Regions from separate parts of the Homo sapiens genome. Here region 1 is linked to region 2. The links come from fine-mapping of genetic effects on gene expression. A gene starts in region 2. The other region holds a variant in brackets. All regions are shown on one strand. Distances are between the middles of the regions.

What was found.
Region 1: its variant is fine-mapped to the expression of SIRT3 in thyroid (GTEx, PIP above 0.99).

Annotation. Positions count from the first base shown.
Region 1 is chr11:182,221-192,383 of GRCh38, reverse strand. It overlaps a transcript of SCGB1C1 not described here. Among named protein-coding and RNA genes, the nearest start is that of SCGB1C1, 5.8 kb to the left of the region's middle. The variant A/G (reference allele first, on the strand shown) is at 5,220.
Region 2 is chr11:230,765-240,927 of GRCh38, reverse strand. It overlaps SIRT3 (sirtuin 3), which reads left to right and starts at 4,586. Exons shown (of 7, transcript NM_012239.6): 1 at 4,586-4,880; 2 at 7,394-7,585; 3 at 7,713-7,945. The coding sequence starts at 4,600. It overlaps PSMD13 (proteasome 26S subunit, non-ATPase 13), which reads right to left and starts at 3,952. Exons shown (of 13, transcript NM_002817.4): 1 at 3,784-3,952; 2 at 1,852-1,930. The coding sequence starts at 3,878. RefSeq lists enhancers at 3,701-3,940, 4,101-4,290 and a silencer at 4,441-4,520.

The DNA of each region.
Region 1 (10,163 bases), 49 kb after region 2:
TGGGGTTGCTATCCTGGGGTTCAACCCCCCAGGTTGAAGGCCCTGGGGGAGATGGTCCCAGGACATATTACAATGGACACAGGAGGTTGGGACACCTGGAGTCACCAAACAAAACCATGCCAAGAGAGACCATGAGTAGGGGTGTCCCAGTCCAGCCCTCTGACTGAGCTGCATTGTTCAAATCCAAAGGGCCCCTGCTGCCACCTAGTGGCTGATGGCATCCACATGGCCCTGGGCCACACGCGTTTAGGGTCTCTGTGAAGACCAAGATCCTTGTTACATTGAACGACTCCTAAATGAGCAGAGATTTCCACCTATTCGAAACAATCACATAAAATCCCATCCTGGAAAAAGCCTGGGGGATGGCACTAAGGCTAGGGATAGGGTGGGATGAAGATTATAGTTACAGTAAGGGGTTTAGGGTTAGGGATCAACGTTGGTTAGGAGTCAGGGATACAGTAGGGTCACCGGTAAGGGTTAGGGGTTAGGGGTAGGGGTTAGGGTTAGGGTTAGGGTTAGGGGTTAGGGGTTAGGGTTAGGGTTAGGGTTAGGGTTAGGGGTTAGGGGTTAGGGTTAGGGTTAGGTTTTGGGGTGGCGTATTTTGGTCTTATACGCTGTGTTCCACTGGCAATGAAAAGAGTTCTTGTTTTTCCTTCAGCAATTTGTCATTTTTAAAAGAGTTTAGCAATTCTAACAGATATAGACCAGCTGTGCTATCTCATTGTGGTTTTCAATTGTAACCACATTGTGGTTTCAATGTGTTTACTTGCCATCTGTAGATCTTCTTTGGTGAGGTGTCTGTTCAGATGTGTGTGCATTTTTAGTTGGGCTGTTTAACTTATTGTTTAGTTTTAATAATTTTTTATATATTTTGAAGACAAATTCTTTCTCAGATGTGTATTTTGCAAATATTTTCTTCAATATGTGGCTTGTCTTTTTGTTCTCTTAACAAGGTCTCTTCCAGAGTATAAACTTTAAATATTAAGAAATCCACACTGTCACTTCTTTTGTGTATATCTACCTTTTGTGTCATTTGTTAAAATTCATTACCAAACCCAAAGGCAGATAGCTTTTCTTCTATTGTTTCTTCTAGAAATTGTATAGTTTTGCATTTTTAGTGTAAGGATGATTTTGAGTGATTATTTGTGTAAGTTGTAAAGTTTTCGTCTATATCCATATCATTTCTTATGGTTTCCAATTAATCGTTCCCTCACTATTTTTGGGAAAGACACAGGATAGTGGGCTTTGTTAGAGTAGATAGGTAGCTAGACATGAACAGGAGGGGGCCTCCTGGAAAAGGGAAAGTCTGGGAAGGCTCACCTGGAGGGACCACCAAAAATTCACATATTAGTAGCATCTCTAGTGCTGGAGTGGATGGGCACTTGTCAATTGTGGGTAGGAGGGAAAAGAGGTACCTATGCAGAAAGAAACACCCTAGAACTCCTCTGAAGATGCCCCAATCATTCACTCTGCAATAAAAATGTCAGAATATTGCTAGCTACATGCTGATAAGGCCAAAGGGGACATTCTTAAGAGAAACCTGGCACCATAAGTACAGATTAGGGCAGAGAAGGACATTCAAAAGAGGCAGGCGCAGTAGGTACAAACGTGATCGCTGTCAGTGTGCCTGGGATGGCGGGAAGGAGGCTGGTGCCAGAGTGGATTCGTATTGATCACCACACATGTACCTCAACCAACAGTGAGGAGGTCCCACAAGCCTAAGTGGGGCAAGTTGGGGAGCTAAGGCAGTAGCAGGAAAACCAGACAAAGAAAACAGGTGGAGACTTGAGACAGAGGCAGGAATGTGAAGAAATCCAAAATAAAATTCCCTGCACAGGACTCTTAGGCTGTTTTAATGCACGCTCAGCCCACTCCTCCCTATTTTTCTACAATAAACTCTTTACACTGTGTTTCTTTTCAATGAAGTTATCTGCCATCTTTGTATTGCCTCTTGGTGAAAATGTTTCTTCCAAGTTAAACAAGAACTGGGACATCAGCTCTCCCCAATAATAGCTCCGTTTCAGTTTGAATTTACAGAACTGATGGGGCTTAATAACTGGCGCTCTGACTTTAGTGGTGCAGGAGGCCGTCACACCGGGACCAAGAGTGCCCTGCCTAGTCCCCATCTGCCCGCAGGTGGCGTGCTGCCACGACACCGACAGCAATAGGGTCCGGCAGTGTCCCCAGCTGCCAGCAGGGGGCGTACGACGACTACACTGTGAGCAAGAGGGCCCTGCAGTGTCCTCAGCTGCCAGCAGGCGGCGTACGGGCACCACACCATGAGCAAGAGGACCATGCAGTGCCCTGGTTGCCAGCAGGGGTCGTGCTGCCACTACACTGTGAGCAAGAGGATCCTGTCGTGCCCCCAGCGGCCAGAAGAGGGCGTGCCCCGACTACACTGCAAGCAAGAGGGCCTGGCAGTGTCCCCATCTGCCAGCAGGCGGGCGTGCTGCCACTACACTGTGAGCAAGAGGGCCCTGCAACGTCCCTAGCTGCCTGCAGGCGGCGTGCCGCCACTATATTGCGAGCAAGAGAGCCCTGCAGTGCCCCGGCGCCAGCAGGGGGCGCTGGCCACCACTGTAAGCAAGAGGGCCCTGCAGTTGCCCTAGTCGCTAGCAGGGGGCGCACTGGGACAGCACCGCGGGCAAGCGGGTCCTGTAGTGCCCGGCTGCAAGCAGGGGGCGCCCGAGCCCGGCTTTTTGGATTACTGAGGTTCAACCCGTCTCTGCGCCGCGCCCCCGAGGACGTGCGTCTCTGCGCCTACAACGCTCCACCCCCGCGCTCTCGTCCCGGTGGCGCGTGACTCTGCGTCTGCACCACCCACCTCCCCCCAAACCCACAGCCTAACGACGTGCGTCTCTGCGCCTGCGCCGCGCCTCCCCCCGCCCCCCAGGGGACGCGCCACTGTGCGCCGGCGCCCGCGCGCCGCGCCTCTGTGCGCCTGCGCCGGCGCGCCGCGTCTCTGTCAATTTAGAAAGCTTATTTTGCCAAGATTAAGGACACGACCATGACACAGCCTCAGGAGGTCCTGACGACGTGTGTCCAAGGTGGCCAGGGTAGAGCTTGCTTTTGTACATTTTAGGGATACATGAGACGTGTAAGATGTACAGTCATTTGGCCCAGTAAGGCGGGACAACTGGAAGCAGGAAGTGGGGGTGCTTCCAGGTCAGAAGTAGGTTAGAGACAAAAGGTTGCATTCTTTTGAATCCTTCATCAGCCTTCCACTGAATACACAATTTAGTCTGGCTCAATGAATCTGCATTTTTACATAAATAATAGGGCAGAGGAAGCAATCAGATATGCATCTGTCTCAGGTGAGGGATGACTTTGAGTGCTGTCTGTCCTTTGTCCAAAAGGAAATTCTTTGTGGGCAAATTGTGAGTGAGGTATGTAGCTTTTTATCTTTGTAGCTATCTTAGTTAGGAATAGAATGAGGGCAGGTTTGCCTGACATAGCTCCCAGCTTGACTTTTCCCTTGGCTTAGTGATTTGGGGGTCCTGAGATTTATTTTCCTTTCATGGTATCAGAACAGAGAAAAGGTAATGCGTTGAGCCATGAGCTTATGACAAGATGGCTAGGAAGGAATTTTTCAGCTCCATTTTTATGTCATGGGACCACCATCATATGTATGCAATGCACGAGTGTAAAATCACATTTAGTTAAGTCAGCTTACACTAAGCTATGGACCCAGATGGTCCTGGGGCCTTTTTCCACTGGGAGATCTTTAAGGACCTTTCTTAGCTTTTCTATGCTAATTGGTATATTCATAGTTGCCTTATTTCAGGGCCCATTTTGTTAATGTGTATTTTTACTAGGAAATCACCCATTTTTTCTAGGTTTCCAGTTTGATGCAATTATTTGACTTTTAATTTCTCCTCTGTTTTTAGTTTTGTACATAATTTTCCTATCTACTTTTGCACTCTTTTTTCCATCAACAATATTTTTAAAATATACTTTTTAGCTTTTTTTGAAGAATTGTTATGTTTGACAATTTTTTATGACCTAATCATGACCGTAAATGATTTTTAATTAATTTCAGCTTAATGTCTTTTGTAGGGCACAACTGTTAAAATACAGAATTACAACAAATGTGGGTTTGCAGATCTTAATTGGCTTTTTTTTGTGGTTCTAGAATCAGGCAGCAGTCCAGACCAAAAATGGTTCAGAATGATCTGCCACACAACATGTGCGGGTTATATTTATAGCCAGAGGAAAAAAGTGACATACAGAAAACAGAAGTGAGGTATAGAGGTGGCTGGATTGGTTACAGACCTGGTTACAGCCCGGATTTGCCTTCTTGGAACTTGTTTTGAACAGCTGGCTGCCGGCCATTGACTGACACTCGGCTGATGTGATTGGCTGAACCGCCGCTATTTGTTACCATGATACATTCCCAAGTCAGATTTTCAGTTTGTTTCTATACTAAATTAGGTTGCGATTCTTCTTGTTCTTCTTCTTTTTTCTTTTTTGAGGCGGAGTCTCGCTCTGTCGCCCAGGCTGGAGTGCAGTGGCGCGATCTCAGCTCACAGCAAGCTCCGCCTCCCAGGTTCACGCCATTCTCCTGTCCCGGCCTCCCGAGTAGCTGGGACTGCAGGCTGCCGCCACCAAGCCCGGCTAATTTTTTTGTATTTTTTTTTTTTAGTAGAGACTGGGTTTCACCTTGTAAGCCATGATGGTCTCGATTTCCTGACCTCATGAGCCACCCGTCTCGGCCTCCCAAAGTGCTGGGATTACAGGCGTGAGCCACGGCGCCCGGCCGCGACTCTTTACAAGGACTCCTCGGGAGGCTTCCAGAGCCCAAATGTTGTTTGATGTAAGAATTCCTCCCTTTTGGTCAGCCTCTCAATTTTGAGATATTGATCAAAACTTTGGGCATTGGTGTCACTCTTTGTTGTCGTTGTAAATTGAGTTATTAGGACTTATTTGCTTTCAGTGTGGCATTTTCAAGTTTTATTTGGTCTCAGTGCCCTCTGGGCAATAGCAGAACACTGTGTTGTGTAAGGCGGAAATAGAGCAATAGAAAATAACAACTGATTTGTTAATATCAGATTACTTCAAGTTACTTGTTTTGGTAAGAATTAAAGCAGAGGGGACTTCTTTATGCTGACTCAGGTAGACTGGAATCTCTTCAGGGAAAAAGGGAGCTCTTTTGGGATCTATCTACTTCCTTAGAGTTTCAGCTTCGTTGTGTGTCATTCAGCGTGAGTGTCTCCATTCTG[A/G]TTTTGCCTGCTCAGTGTGGCCTAGTGCGGGAGTGGTGACCGAAACAATGACCTCCCGTAGTTTGTTCCACAGTTCTCCCCTTTTGGTTGGGTTCCTGCCTAGGTGAGGGTGTGACTAAAACCTTAGGGCATTAGCGGTATTCTCAGTAACTATCATTTTAGGTTTCCGGTCTTAGGGCATTAGCACTATTCTCAGTAACTATCATTTTAGGGTTCCGGTCTTAGGGCATTAGCACTATTCTCAGTGACTATCATTTTAGGGTTCCGGTCTTAGGACATTAGCGGTATTCTCAGTAACTATCATTTTAGGGTTCCGGTCTTAGGGCATTAGCGGTATTCTCAGTAACTATCATTTTAGGGTTCCGGTCTTAGGGCATTAGCGGTATTCTCAGTAACTATCATTTTAGGGTTCCGGTCTTAGGGCATTAGCACTATTCTCAGTAACTATCATTTTAGGGTTCCGGTCTTAGGGCATTAGCGGTATTCTCAGTAACTATCATTTTAGGGTTCCGGTCTTAGGGCATTAGCGGTATTCTCAGTAACTATCATTTTAGGGTTCCAGTCTTAGGGCATTAGCAGTATTCTCAGTGACTATCATTTTAGGGTTCCGGTCTTAGGGCATTAGCACTATTCTCAGTAACTATCATTTTAGGGTTCTGGTCTTAGGGCATTAGCAGTATTCTCAGTGACTATCATTTTAGGTTTCCGGTCTTACGGCATTAGCGGTATTCTCAGTAACTATCATTTTAGGGTTCCGGTGTTAGGGCATTAGCACTATTCTCAGTAACTATCATTTTAGGGTTCCGGTCTTAGGGCATTAGCAGTATTCTCAGTAACTACCATTTTAGGGTTCCGGTCTTAGGGCATTAGCACTATTCTCAGTAACTATCATTTTAGGGTTCCGGTCTTAGGGCATTAGCAGTATTCTCAGTAACTATCATTTTAGGTTTCCGGTCTCAACACATCATTTAAGAAGTCAGTAAAGCTTTCTTCTACTGTGACAGCATATTTAATACTGAGAAAGAAAAGAAAATTTTTATCTTGCGAATGTGAGCTTCCTCTAAATTATCAGGTCCAGAGAGGCGTGGGAATGAGGCAGCAGTCACGTCCCATTTCCCTCTTAGCTAAGTAATCATATCTTGAAGCTGCTTGCTATGTAGACTAGACTGACTGTCATCAGCTATAGATTAACCTAAGAGTGTCTTTGAATATTTTTTCCAGTGGCAAATATTTGCTTCTGTTGTATCGTAGCTGAAAGGAATGCTGGGAAACAAAATAAAGACAAGCATTCATTAGAATAAGTGATCCAGTCACAATGAATCAATTTGAACTTTTTTTTTTTTCACAAAGTCATACTTTGAAAACTTCCAGCCGTAAATTGAAATAGTCTCCAAAATGTGAATTTTTTTCCCTGGTTCTAAGATGACCAGCTTTCTTAGAGAGTGAACTACACCATAAGAAAAATGATATGACCATGTTTACACATATATGTTATCTTAACATAAAACATGTAAAAGGGGCATTTCTTTGAAAGTATATATTAGTCTGTATAATTTACTTTGCAGTATCATGAATGCTCTTATTTTTAAAAGTAGGAGTAGTTACTGTCAATTACTAATTTTTAGTACAAATAATTTAGCAGATATCTGAAAAAATTACAATTTTTAAATAGAGGTTTTATTTTAAATTAGTTTTAGATTCATACAGAAATTGGGAAGAAAATGCAGATTTCCCATGTAGACGCAACCTAGTTTCCCCTCTTTTTAACATATCAACATGTATCAGATAGGTTTAACATCTTTTTTTTTTTTTTTTTCCAGACCAGGTTTTTTTTTTTTTCAACCAGGCTGGAGTGCAGTGGCGTGATCTCGGCTCACTGCAACCTCCGCCTCCCAGGTTCAAGCGATTCTCCTGCCTCAGCCTCCTGAGTAGCTGGTATTACAGGCGCCTGCCATCATGCCCGGCTAATTTTTGTATTTTTAGTAGAGATGAGGTTTCACCACGTTGGCCAGGCTGGTCTCGAACTCCTGATCTCAGGTGATCTGCCCGCCTCAGCCTCCCAAAGTGCTGGGATTACAGGCATGAGCCACCACTCCTGACCAACATCTTACATCATTTCTTGTCATACTTAATGACTGGATATTACTATATTATTAAATAAGCTCACATCTTATTTGGTTTCCCTTAGTTCTGCCTTTTTCTCTCCCAGGATCCTATCTAGGATCCCATAGGACATTTAGTCATCATGTCAGGCTCTTCTTGGCTGTGACAGTCTCTCAGACTTTACTTCTGAGGACCTGGAACAGTGTTAGGAGGATTGGTCAGGTATTGTGTAGAATGTCCTCCATTGTGGTTTACTTGGGGTTTTTCTCATAATCAGCCTGGGTTTAGGGGTTTGGGGGAAGCAGAGCAGATGTGTAGTGTGTCCACAAAAAGAGTCAAAGACTGTAAAATATTTGAAGAGATGTATTCTGAGCCAAATATGAGTGACCATGGCCCTTGACACAGCCCTCAGGAGACCCTGAGAACATGTGCCCAAAGTCGTTGGGGTGCAGGTTGGTTCTATACATTTTAGGGAGATAGGAGACATCAATCAAGTGTATTTAAGATATATATTGGTTCGGTCCAGAAAGGTGGGACAACCCAATGGATTAGGGTTGGGGGGTGGGGCTTCCAGGTTATAGGTACATTTAAAATTTTTCTGATTGGCAGTTTGTTGAAAGACTTACTATCAATAGAAAGGAGTGTCTGGGTTATGATAAGGGGTTATGGAGGCCAAGGTTTTATCATGGAGATGAAGCTTCCAGGTAGCAGGCTTCAGAGAGAATAGATTGTAAATGTTTCTTATCAGATTTAAGGTTGTGTTGATGTTAAATGCTGATTGGCTTTTCCTGAATTCCAAAAGGGAGGAGGGCATAATGAGGCATGTCTGACCACCTCTTTCCCATCATAGCCTGAACCAGTCTTCCAGGTTAACTTTGGTGTCCCCTGGTGGAGAGGTGGTTGTGGGAAAGATCTTTGAATTTTATTTTTGGTTTGCAAGTGCTAGTCTAGTCACTTCATGCTCTCAAGATGTGTTATCACCATTAATGTTAACTTTTATCACTTGGTTGAGGCAGTGTTTTCAGGTTTTTCACTGTGAAGTTACTTTTTTCCCATGTCTATATTGTATGTATGCTTTTGGAGGAAGTCATCATGCAGAGCTCATACTTAAAGGAGTGGGGAGTTAGCCCCACCTCCTTGATGGCTGTCTATATCAGGTATTTGGAATTCTTCTGTGTAAGAGATTTCTATTCAGTCCATTTGCATATCTGTTTAATCATTTATTTATACCAGTATGGGTCCACAGATAGTTACTTTAATCTTTTGGTTGTTATCTAATTGTACAGTATTTTGTTGCTCTTTGTTCATACCTGTGGCCATTGGTAGCTCTTTCCACTGGCTCCTTTTACATAATTTCATGTTTTTTTTTTATAATTTATTTCTGTTACTTCAAAAGTACCCTGGCTCATATATTTTCTGTCCCAGTCCTAGTTTCAGCTATTTCTTCTAATAGCCCTGATTTCTTTTGTTAGAGAATGGTATGAAAAACTTACATCTGGCCACTAAATGTGGTCATTGCATCATGACACTTAGAGCTGACAGTGCAAAGAAATATATGTGTGTCTTCTAACTTATATGTACCCACTTAATTATAAAGGTTTCTATGTGGAACCATCTATGTATATGTTAAGCTAAATGTGAGTTTATACTTACGTTGTATATATATATTCTGACTCATTATGACAGAGATCATTCTAGGCTTCCCTATTTTTTATCTGTAACTTCTCGCTGTAATAGTGAGGAACCTGGCTCCTACTATCTGCCATTTATTTCATCCCCTGTACCATTGGGAACAAGGAATTCATTCTTGATCAAGATTCCAGGTTGGGACTTAATAAGAAATATATGTTTGGTCTGTGTCTGCAGTTCCTGGTACAGAGCTTCTAAAACTATTATAATTTCCTGAACAGTAGGGGTGCTAGGAGCATCTTGTGTTCTAATATTTGGTCTTTGGCCCTGGTTCCTGACGCAGAGTTCCTAAATCTCTTGGAATCTCCTGTATAATAGGAATGGCTTCTGTTCTAATAAGGACACTCTGTGGGTTCCTGGATGGTTTCAGGATGGGGATGGTCACCAGAAAGACCAAGCCATGATAAGAAGGTTCTGACTTTTAGCTTAACATGCAATCCTTTGAGGGTGTGAAGGGACTGGAAATTGAGTTAATAATCCGTCATGTCTACATGATGAAGCTTCCATAAAAATTCCTAAAATATGGAATTTGGTAAGTTCCAGATCAAGGCTGACAGATTTGATGTCTAGTGAGGGCTCATCTATCATAGATAGTGCCTTCTAGCATGTCGTGACATGGCAGAATGGGGAAACGGGCTCCTAGATGCTTTTATAAGGGCACTGGTTTCATTCATGAGGACAGCACTCTCATGATCCGATCACCTCTCGGTTACCTCTGAATACCATCCCTTTGGGGATTACATTTCAAAATAGGAATTTGGGGTGGGGGTGTACACACATTGAGACCATAATAACTAGTAAACATAAGTAAGTATTTCCTAGTTCCATAAGCCATCATAGCAAATTGTCAAACCTGAAGAGGGGGTGTAGGAATGCCTAGTTTCTAGCCAAGTCATATAGAAGTTTGGGTAAACTGGGGATTCACAACTTGTGATTGGCATCTGAGGTTGTGGACAGTCTGGTGTTACTAAGCCCTTAACCTGTAGGGTGTATACTAACTCCAGGTAATCAGTGTCACAGTTGAATTACAGGATACCCAATTGTTTTCCAGAGAGTTGGAATATTGGTTGGTATGGGAAACACCCCCCACCCCCCACAATTTGCTGTTAAAAGTGGAGTGTTGATAGTATAGAGGAAAATCATGGTTATTTT
Region 2 (10,163 bases):
CCCGGGAGGAGGAGGATGTAGTGAGCTGAGACTGTGCCATTGCACTCCAGCCTGGGTGATAAGAATGAAACTCCGTCTCAAAAAATAATAATAATAAATAAATAAAATGGCATTTTTATTACAAAAGACTATTTCAAAGATATCTTCCTTATTAGAAGGAAATGTTTGAACTTTCCTGACATGTATTAATCTAAAAAATTACCTTAAAAAAGAAGCCCACTAAGTCCAGAAAGTCAAAATTACTTCTGGTGACTATAAATTCAAAAATACTATCCATTTTACACTTATGCTAGCTGGATCCCAACAAATTTTAAAGGTTTATTCTGTCTATGGGAAAAGTAAACTCAGATCTGCCAACCTAAATAAACATCACCTTACCATGAGGTTGAGGAAATATTTTGTCATGTGTAGAAAAGTGATTTAAAGATAAGAAACCAAAGGACAGAGATAAACAATTATGAATCATCTATCGTGATGATTTAGAACCTTAGGGAACAAGTATTAAGACAGGTCTCAGGCCAGGCACAGTGGCTCCTGCCTATAATCCCAGCACTCTGGGAGGCCAAGGCAGGCAGATCACCTGAGGTCAGGAGTCTGAGACCAGCCTGGCCAACACTGGTGAAACCCCATCTCTACTAAGAAATACAAAAATCAGCTGGCTGTGGTGGTGGGCACCTGTAATCCCAGCTACTTGGGACGCTGAGGCAGAAGAATCGCTTGAACTCGGGAGGTGGAAGTTGCAGTGAGCCAAGATCGCACCATTGCACTCCAGCCCGGGCAACAAGAGCGAAACTCCGTCAAAAAAAAAAAAAAAAAAAAAAAAAAAGCAGGTCTCATTTATCATTTTCCCACATAATCCAGAAGACTGAATGTTCAGCAAAATCTCCAGGCTTACAGATGATTGTAAGTTCCTCTGAATAGTAAAATGTCAAATTGATGGCTATAAACCACAAGAAAATCTTACAAGCCCAGGTGGTGGGGTAGCAAGGTGGTAAGCTCTATTGCGAGCATATAAAAGTAATGTATTCAGGAGAAATGACTCAAAATGTAATTATAAGCTATCAGTTGCAATGCTGGTATGAATCTCTGATTCATTCAGAATCAGAGAAAGCCATCATAGAGTAAGATGTCAGGAAAAACTTCAAAGAGGAGGCTACCAGTGAGCAAATTCGTGGGGATGTGTCAGGGGATCTGGGGAAGGCTGGGAAAGAAGGTGCGTATTTGTCTACTGCTGAAAAAATTCTAAAAGTCCTCTATTACAGAGGCAGCATGACACTATACAGGACTCTCCCTCCAATCCACCTACCCTCAACCGAAGTACAAAAGGTGTTTTATTTTCCACACTACCCAGGACAGAAGTGTCTGGGCAAGCAAGCAGTGCGGCTTAAAGAAGGGGAGTGATGGAAGTTATCTAAGATTCCCACAGATAGTAATCTTCCTCATACCTTACTCCACCCTCTAACTGGGTTTGAACTTTGTTTCTAAAACTAGAGTACTAAAAAGAAGCCTATGAACTAAGATACTTAGGCATGTTGTAAGATAATACTTTATGCTAGAATTTCAAAAAAAGCCAGAATGTCAGTGTTTGAATCCTCTTCTGCCACTTATCAGCAGTGATCTATGGTAAGTTACTTAAAGTCTTATGTTTGCTTCTACATCAAAAAAGTGAGATAGTAGTATCTACTGACCAGCGTTGTCATGAAGGATATGTGAAGCGCTCAGACCAGTACCTGACGTAAAGTGACTGCTGAATATTGGAGCTTATTATTATTATTAGCATAAAGCCTATCTTATTTTCAAAAGTCCTTGAGCACATTCATATAATCTAATCTGGTATAGCAAATTATTTACCTTAATGAGACCATCTCCTTGGGCAAAGCACGGATCCTGCACAAAATCAAGCACCTGAAGTGTCAGCTGATGCCACAACCTGAAAAACATACAGCCCTTAAGACCTCTAACCTAATATCCAGTCACAGACACCTCCAGCCTTGATGATTCTATCAAGTCACAAATACAGGTTGGGTATCTCTAATCCAAAACTCCAAAACTCCAAAATTCAAAATGCTCCAAAATCCAAAACTTTTTGAGCACCAACATAGGGCTCAAAGGAAATGACCACTGGAGCATCTCAGATTTCAGATTTTTGATTTATGGATACTGAACGGGTAAGTATATATCGCAAATATTTCAAAATTTGAAAAAATACTAAATCCAAAAAAACTTTTGCCCCAATGCATTTCTTTCTTTCTTTTTTGAGACAGAGTCTGACTCTGTTGCCCAGGCTGTAGTGCAGTGGCGCCATCTCGGCTCACTGCAACCTCTGCCTCCCAGGATCAAGTGATTCTCCTGCCTCAGCCTCCCGAGTAGCAGGGATTACAGGCATGAGCCACTGCGCCCGGCCGCCCCAATGCATTTCTGATAAGGGATACTAAATCCATACTAACCAGTCTCTACGGTGTAGCAGAAAGAATGCTAAAGCAGATGTGATAAACCTGAGTTCTTTTCCTGGCTCTGCTATTGAATGGCTATGTCACTTTGAGATCACTTAACTTCTCTAAGACTCAGTTTTCCCAGGTATGAAATGGAGAACATTAATCTAGATTAACTCAAAGGGTTATTGTGAGGTTTCACTGGAAACGAGAACTTTGGAATCATACATATCTAACTTGAGATGCTGGCTCTTCTACCTATTAGCTGAGTATCTCAGGGAAGGCAATTAAAATGAGCTTCAGTTTCCTCCTCTGTGAAAAGGATGAATAAAGGATTAAATAAGCTAATATTTAAAACCTCAGGGACAGTGACATAGCGCTTCATCCAAAACCCAAAGGCTAATATTTAATAACGCAGATAAAATGCTTTGAAAATTACCAAGTGCTATCCAACACAAACCATTATTTGCCAAACATTAATTTGCTCTCAAAAACTGCTAATAGCAGAAGGCTGCTGAATGCTAAACATCATCAAAACATGTATGGAACATCTATGTGAAAGGTATTATATTAAATGCTAGGGTTAACAGGGAGGTTACTACAGGAGATGTATTTTCTATGGAATAGCTCCAGCCCAATGCCAGCAATTTATTCTACTCATATTAAAAGGAGGTTAGTGCTTAGCAAGAATTTAATTGCTCTGCAATTCATCCTGTTTCTAAACAAACCTAAACTTTAAGATCTTTCTAGGGGCAGAAAGCCCATGAGAAATACAATGGAAGGTAAAGACAATGGGACGGCGGAAGTGGTTGCACCCCGTGCAACCAGCTGCAGAATGAATAGGGAAAACAGCAAAGCTGTACTAGCCTCTGGTTTATCAACTCCAGACCATGAGAAAGATAACTGTAGATACAGTTACACTATGACAAGGCTAAGCACGAATCACCAACATGTTTCCCAAAGTGGGTGGTGGCCCTGAAAGTGTGTTTGCTTGTTAGATGGAATCAAGAGCTAAAATCAAAGGCTACTCCTGAACCGTTTTAGTAAGACCCGAGGTAGGAGTTCAGAAGCCTCAGTCTCAGTCCCCCGTTAAGGAAGCAGTGAATCTCAGACCGAAACATCCTGGCTACAGCTCTTGGCCCTCGTGGTCTGTCATCCCTCTTATTCCTCGACCCTGCCACTCAAGGTTCCTCAGCAAACCTTGCCGGCACAGCCGGTCGCTACACGTCCCCGTTTCCCCCCAACTTGGGTCTGGGCGCCCTCAGCCCATCAAGGGTCCGCTCCTCCGCCCGCCTGCCCCCTCCGTCTCCCTCTATCGCCGGGGCCCAGGGCCCGTCTGCTCGGCGCTCACTTCTTCGTGTAGAGCTCCTCCAGACGGTGCCACACAGCGGGCTGCCCGGGCCCGGAGTTCTGGCTCTGCTGTAGGAAGCCCGGTACGTCCTTCATGACAGCAGGAAGACCCCCGGCACAGAAGAACAACCGGGATGTCAGCACCGCGGGGATGGCTGCCGGAAATGCTCACTCACTTCCGGCGCCGAGCGGCGCGGGGCAGGCTGGGAGCGCCGTAGCAGGCCGGGGGCGGGCCCCGCTGGTTGCTCGGTTACAGCGCGTCTCTGCGCTCCGGACAAAACTCTCCGGCGTTTGCAGCCCACTTCCCGCGCACTTGGCTGTGCCATTGAGGCGTCAAAGAGTGTGGGCGCCTGTGGTCGAACCCGCTACGGACTAGCTTTGTGGTGTCAGCCTTTGTGACCCGGAATTGCTCCTGTCAAATGAGGATCTTCCCAGTAGTGTTTTGCGAGGATTAGGTGTAAATATAATGCCTGACCATAGTAAAAGCGCTCAGAAAGTATTAACTATCACCGCCATCCGGGTTGAAAAAGGTGTGAGCGCAGGGTACAGAAATGCTGGCTCCAGGTTTGACCTCCGGGGCGAGAGATGAGACACCAGACTAGGGAACTTCCTCTACTCGCCTCTACGTCTACCTGGGCGCGCCGGAGGCGTCGGCAAGGAGGCGGGGGCGGGGCGCGGAGGCGGGACCGGGGCGCCGGGGGCGGGGGCGGTAGGCGGAGGCGGGGCTGGGGCGCCGGGGGCGGGGGTGGGAGGCGGAGGCGGGGCCGGGGCGCCGGGGGCGGGGCGAGTCCGGAGGACTCCTTGGACTGCGCGGAACATGGCGTTCTGGGGTTGGCGCGCCGCGGCAGCCCTCCGGCTGTGGGGCCGGGTAGTTGAACGGGTCGAGGCCGGGGGAGGCGTGGGGCCGTTTCAGGCCTGCGGCTGTCGGCTGGTGCTTGGCGGCAGGGACGATGTGAGTGCGGGGCTGAGAGGCAGCCATGGGGCCCGCGGTGAGCCCTTGGACCCGGCGCGCCCCTTGCAGAGGCCTCCCAGACCCGAGGTGCCCAGGGCATTCCGGAGGCAGCCGAGGGCAGCAGCTCCCAGTTTCTTCTTTTCGAGGTATTTTGGGCAAGGACAAGCACTTCTTGCGTGTTCGTTGTCGACACCTCGCCCACTCTTTCTCACCTTGCCGTGTTTCCTTTGCGGCATGTCTGGGAGTTTACGTGCGTTCCAACACCGGGGCCTCCGTCTTTATGCTGATCTGTGGACGTCACTTATGGGGGTTTTGTCGTTTATTTCACCATTCCCTCATTGAAATACGTTCTAACCTTTAGTTATTGTGCATCATGCTGTGGTGAATAACCTTGTTGGCACCTCACTGTTTGCATAAATTCCTAGTACTGGGATTGCTAGGTCCAAAAGTATATGCATTTAACGCTTTAATGATCCCTCATAAATGTTGTGCGGTTAATACTCCCACTGGCATGTGATCGTACCCGTCTCCATAGTAATTGCATCTAAGAACTGAGGCTACATAGGAAAAAATCTTAAGGTCCATGGTTGTTAGGTATCAGATGCCCTATAATGGATGAATATTTAAGTAAATAATGGCACATTGACTTGCTGTCTGACACAACTGCTGAAAATGTTGGTGAAAAGTGAGTCTCGAAGTGGTAGCTCACACTTGTAATACCAGCACTTTCGGAGGCTGAGACGGGGATCGCTCGAGGCCAGGAGTTCAAGAGCAGCCTGGGCAACATAACGAGACCCCCATCTCTACCAAAAATTTAAAAATTAGCCGGGCATGGTGGCGCAAGCCTGTTGTCCCAGTTACTCCTGAGACTAAGGCAAGAGGATCCCTTGAGTCCAGGAGTTCAAGGCTGCAGTGAGCTATGATTGAGCCACTGCACTCCAGCCTGGGTGACAGAGCAAGACTCTTATCTACCTGTGGGAAAAAAAAAAGAAAAAAGTTTAATAGATCCTGAAGAGTTGGCCGGGCGCGGTAGCTCACGCCTGTAATCCCAGCACTTTGGGAGGATGAGACGGGTGGATAACGAGGTCAGGAGTTCGAGACCAGCTGGGCCAACATGGTGAAACCCCATTTCTACTGAAATTACAAAAATTAGCCGGGCGTGGTGGCGGGCGCCTGTAATCCTAGCTACTCAGGAGGCGGAGGCAGGAGAATCACTTGAACCCGGAAGGCAGAGGTTGCAGTGAGCCGAGATGGCACCATTGCACTCCAGCCCGGGCGAAAGAGCAAAAACTCCGTCTCAAAAAAAAACAAAGATCCCGAAGAGTCAGTCGTTCATCCAAGAAGCCCTGACTGAGCTCTTATTCTGTGCCAGACTCTGTTCTAGGTGCTATGGATGGAGCAGGGACCAGGACCTACAAACACGTGGAGCGCATTCTAATATCTGTGATACTCTGCAAAACTGTTAAAACAAATCCTTGCGGCCGGGCGCGGTGGCTCACGCCTGTAATTCCAGCACTTTGGAAGGCCGAGACGGGCGGATCACGAGGTCAGGAGATCGAGACCATCCTGGCTAACACAGTGAAACCCCGTCTTTACTAAAAATACAAGGAAATTAGCCAGGCGTGGTGGCGGGTGCCTGTAGTCCCAGCTACTCGGGAGGCTGAGGCAGGAGAATGGCGTGAACCTGGGAGGCGGAGCTTGCAGTGAGCCGAGATCGCGACACTGCACTCCAGCCTGGGCAACAGAGCGAGACTCCGTCTCAAAACAAAACAAAACAAAACAAAACAAAAATCCTTGCTACCACTGGCCCTAAAGCAGGAGGCATAGGGCTGCGTGTGAGGAGTAGTCCATTGCATGGGCTTCCTCCAGTTTGGCTTTGGATTTTTGAGCTCTCTGAATTTGTTGTTTGTGTCCTTTGCACAGTGTCCCTCCCAGGTTGCACCCATGCCTGCCCCTCAGGGTCCCCCACTCCCAGTGAATTTCACACCATGCAGCATGTACTTTAAGCCATACATCTTACGTATGTTCCAGACATTTGGTAAAACGCCGTTTATGTGTTTTTCAGTGACTCACAAACATTTTATTTACGTAAATGAGGAATGTACTCAGGCACCCTTCGTGATACCTTGCCCTCAGCAGGCACTCAACAGCAATAATAACTTTCATTCCTTTTGTGCTTCTCTTAACAGTTCGTGTTTAGTAGGAGCACAGTAGCTGTTTGGGGAACGACCTTAAGTGAATAGATGTCTGAAATGCTGTGTGAAGTGGGGCGCTTAATAGGTGGTGAGATGGTTTTAGAACCAGGGTTTTCCCTCTTTGCTTCTTGACTCCTTAACCAGTTTTCATTAGGAGACCCCTTTGGAGGTTTGCAGTCAGTCAGAGTTGAGTGCCTACTGAGTGTACTGAATTATGAAATGAGCACAGTTCCCATTAACCTGAATTTTTTGCTCCCAAGTAAGTCTTGATTTCTGATTTATGACTGCTTTTTGTTGTACCCCAATAGTCGTCTAAGAAAGGTGATTATTTTGAGAGGCCTGGGGAGACACACATGCTCATTCTCGAGGGTGGCGGTGGTGCAGAGGGCAGAGCCATGCTCGTTCTTGCTATCCTGAGATTGGTTGCTATCTGTTTCCTTTGCTGCTGTGTTTTTTTCTGTCAGTATTAAAGGTGGAAGAAGGTCCATATCTTTTTCTGTGGGTGCTTCAAGTGTTGTTGGAAGTGGAGGCAGCAGTGACAAGGGGAAGCTTTCCCTGCAGGATGTAGCTGAGCTGATTCGGGCCAGAGCCTGCCAGAGGGTGGTGGTCATGGTGGGGGCCGGCATCAGCACACCCAGTGGCATTCCAGACTTCAGGTACTGCCCACAGTCCCACCTGCCTTCTGCGCTCCCCTCCCCTGACTCCTGCCCTCCCCACTGCCCAGTTTATTCCACTTCCCTGTCCTCTTCCAAAGGCCTCAGAGCCTTTCTTCTCTCCCTGCAGATCGCCGGGGAGTGGCCTGTACAGCAACCTCCAGCAGTACGATCTCCCGTACCCCGAGGCCATTTTTGAACTCCCATTCTTCTTTCACAACCCCAAGCCCTTTTTCACTTTGGCCAAGGAGCTGTACCCTGGAAACTACAAGCCCAACGTCACTCACTACTTTCTCCGGCTGCTTCATGACAAGGGGCTGCTTCTGCGGCTCTACACGCAGAACATCGATGGGCTTGAGAGAGGTGAGCCCTCTGTGAGTCGCACACATTCTTTTTCTCCCACGGAGGCTCGGGTGCCTGTTTCTCCCAGGGAGGCTCGGGTGCCTGTTTCTCACAGGGGATGCTCGGGTGCCTGTTTCTGGGGACGGCCAAAACCTATCGCTTATGCTTCTTCCTTGGGACTTTTTTTGAGCCAACTAGTTAGGGCTTTGTTCCCAAGGAAAATGTCCTCTGGGTGTTTAAAGGCCACTGCTTGTTCTCCTGCATACCTGCAGAGCTGTGTATTTTGGGCAGAAGTTGACATTGTTTTGCCAATCTGGTGTGATGATCTCTTTTTTTCTTCTCTCTTTTAAGAAGTGTATTATGGAATTTTTTTGAGCACACACAAAGAGAGCAATGTAACGAACCGTCCTGTCCTCATCACCAGCACACAGCCAGTTCTTCCTGCGTCCTCACCACCTTCTTCCAAATCCCCAGATTATTTTGAAGCAAATCTCTCACATCATGAATTTAATCTAGAAATAATCTATAAACACATGAATGGATAGCTCTAGAGAATACTTTAAAAACAACTCCGGCCGGGTGCCGGATTACAGGTGTGGGATCACACCTGTAATCCCAGCATTTTGGGAGGCCGAGGCAGGTAGATCACCTGAGGTCGGGAGTTCGAGACCAGCCTGGCCAACGTGGCAAAACCCCGTCTCTACTAAAAATACAAAAAATTAGCCAGGCGTGGTGGTGTGTGCCTGTAATCCCAGGTACTCGGGAGGCTGAGACAGGAGAATCTCTTGAACCCAGCAGGCGGAGGTTGCAGTGAGCCGAGATCGTGCCACTTCACTCCAGCCTGGGCGACAGAGGGAGATTCTGTCTCAAAAAAATAAATAAAAATAAAAATAATTAAAAAATAAAAACAACTCTGATAGTGATTCACACTGAAGAATCACTAGTAATTCCTTAATATGGTCACACTTAGTCTGTGGTGATTTCTTGACCGTATCCATATGGTGCCCAAACCAGCGATTCACAGGTTGTGCCAACTTCTGGCCGTGCACCTAACGGAAGCACTTGGTGGGGCCTTTTCCTTACGTGCAGTGATGCAGACAGGTGCTGGGACAGTCAGCTCTCCGGGAGCCAGGCTCCCGGAGAGACTGCTGATGTGTTGTCAGTTAAAAAGAGGTGGCACCTTGGCTCCAGGAATGTGTTTCCTTGCCAGAAGGATCCCCTGACTTGGAACCACAGAGGCAGCAGCGGATGCCCCATGTTGGTGGGCTCTTCTCCCAGAGGTGCAGCAGGGCAGGCCTTGTGGGAAGGTGGGAGCTCCTGGCTGTGAGATTCAGCACTGCTGAGTTAGGGCAGCGACAGGGACTTGGGAAGCCTCCTGCAGCTGGGACCCTGGCTGTGCCACCGCAGCCTTTCAGAACCAGTTAATACTAACACAACTTTCATAAGAAGTCACTTTTTGTCTGTTTCTACCAAGCAATTCTTTTGGAATTTATGATATTTATATCCTCATTTTAACTTGGTATCTGTAGAATAGAAGATATGTTCCTGGATATTAGATATAAATTTTTGAGACAGGGTCTTGGCTCTGTTGCCCAGGCTAGAGTGCAGTGGCATGATCATAGCTCACTATAGCCTGAACTCTTGGGCCGAAGTGATCCTTTTGCCTCAGCCTCTGGAATAGCTGGGACTACGGGCATGCACTACCATGCCTGGCTAATTAAAAAAATTTTTTAAGACAAGTCTCACTATGTTGCTGAGGCTGGTCTCAAACTCCTGGCCTCAAGTGATCCTCCTGCCTTGGCCTTCCAAAGCACTGGGATTACAGGCATGAGCCACTGCACCCAGCCTGGTATTAGGTGTAATTTTTTTTTTTTTTTTTGAGACAGAATCTCGCTCTCTTACCCAAACTGGAGTGCGGTGGCACGACCTCAGCTCACTGCAACTTCCACCTCCCGGGTTCAAGCGATTCTCCTGTCTCAGCCTCCCCGAGTAGCTGGCACTACAGGTGCCTGCCACCACATCTGGCTAATTTTTGTATTTTTAGTAGAGGTACGGTTTCACCATGATGGCCAGGCCGGTCTTGAACTCCTAGCCTCAAATGATCTGCCCACCTCGGCCTCCCAAAGTGCTGGGATTACAGGTGTGGGCCACTGTGCCCGGCTGGATATAATTTTATTTGAGCTTTTATCAAATGGTTTTTCGTACTGAGTTTTGACAGGCTTTGTTTTAACCGTGATTT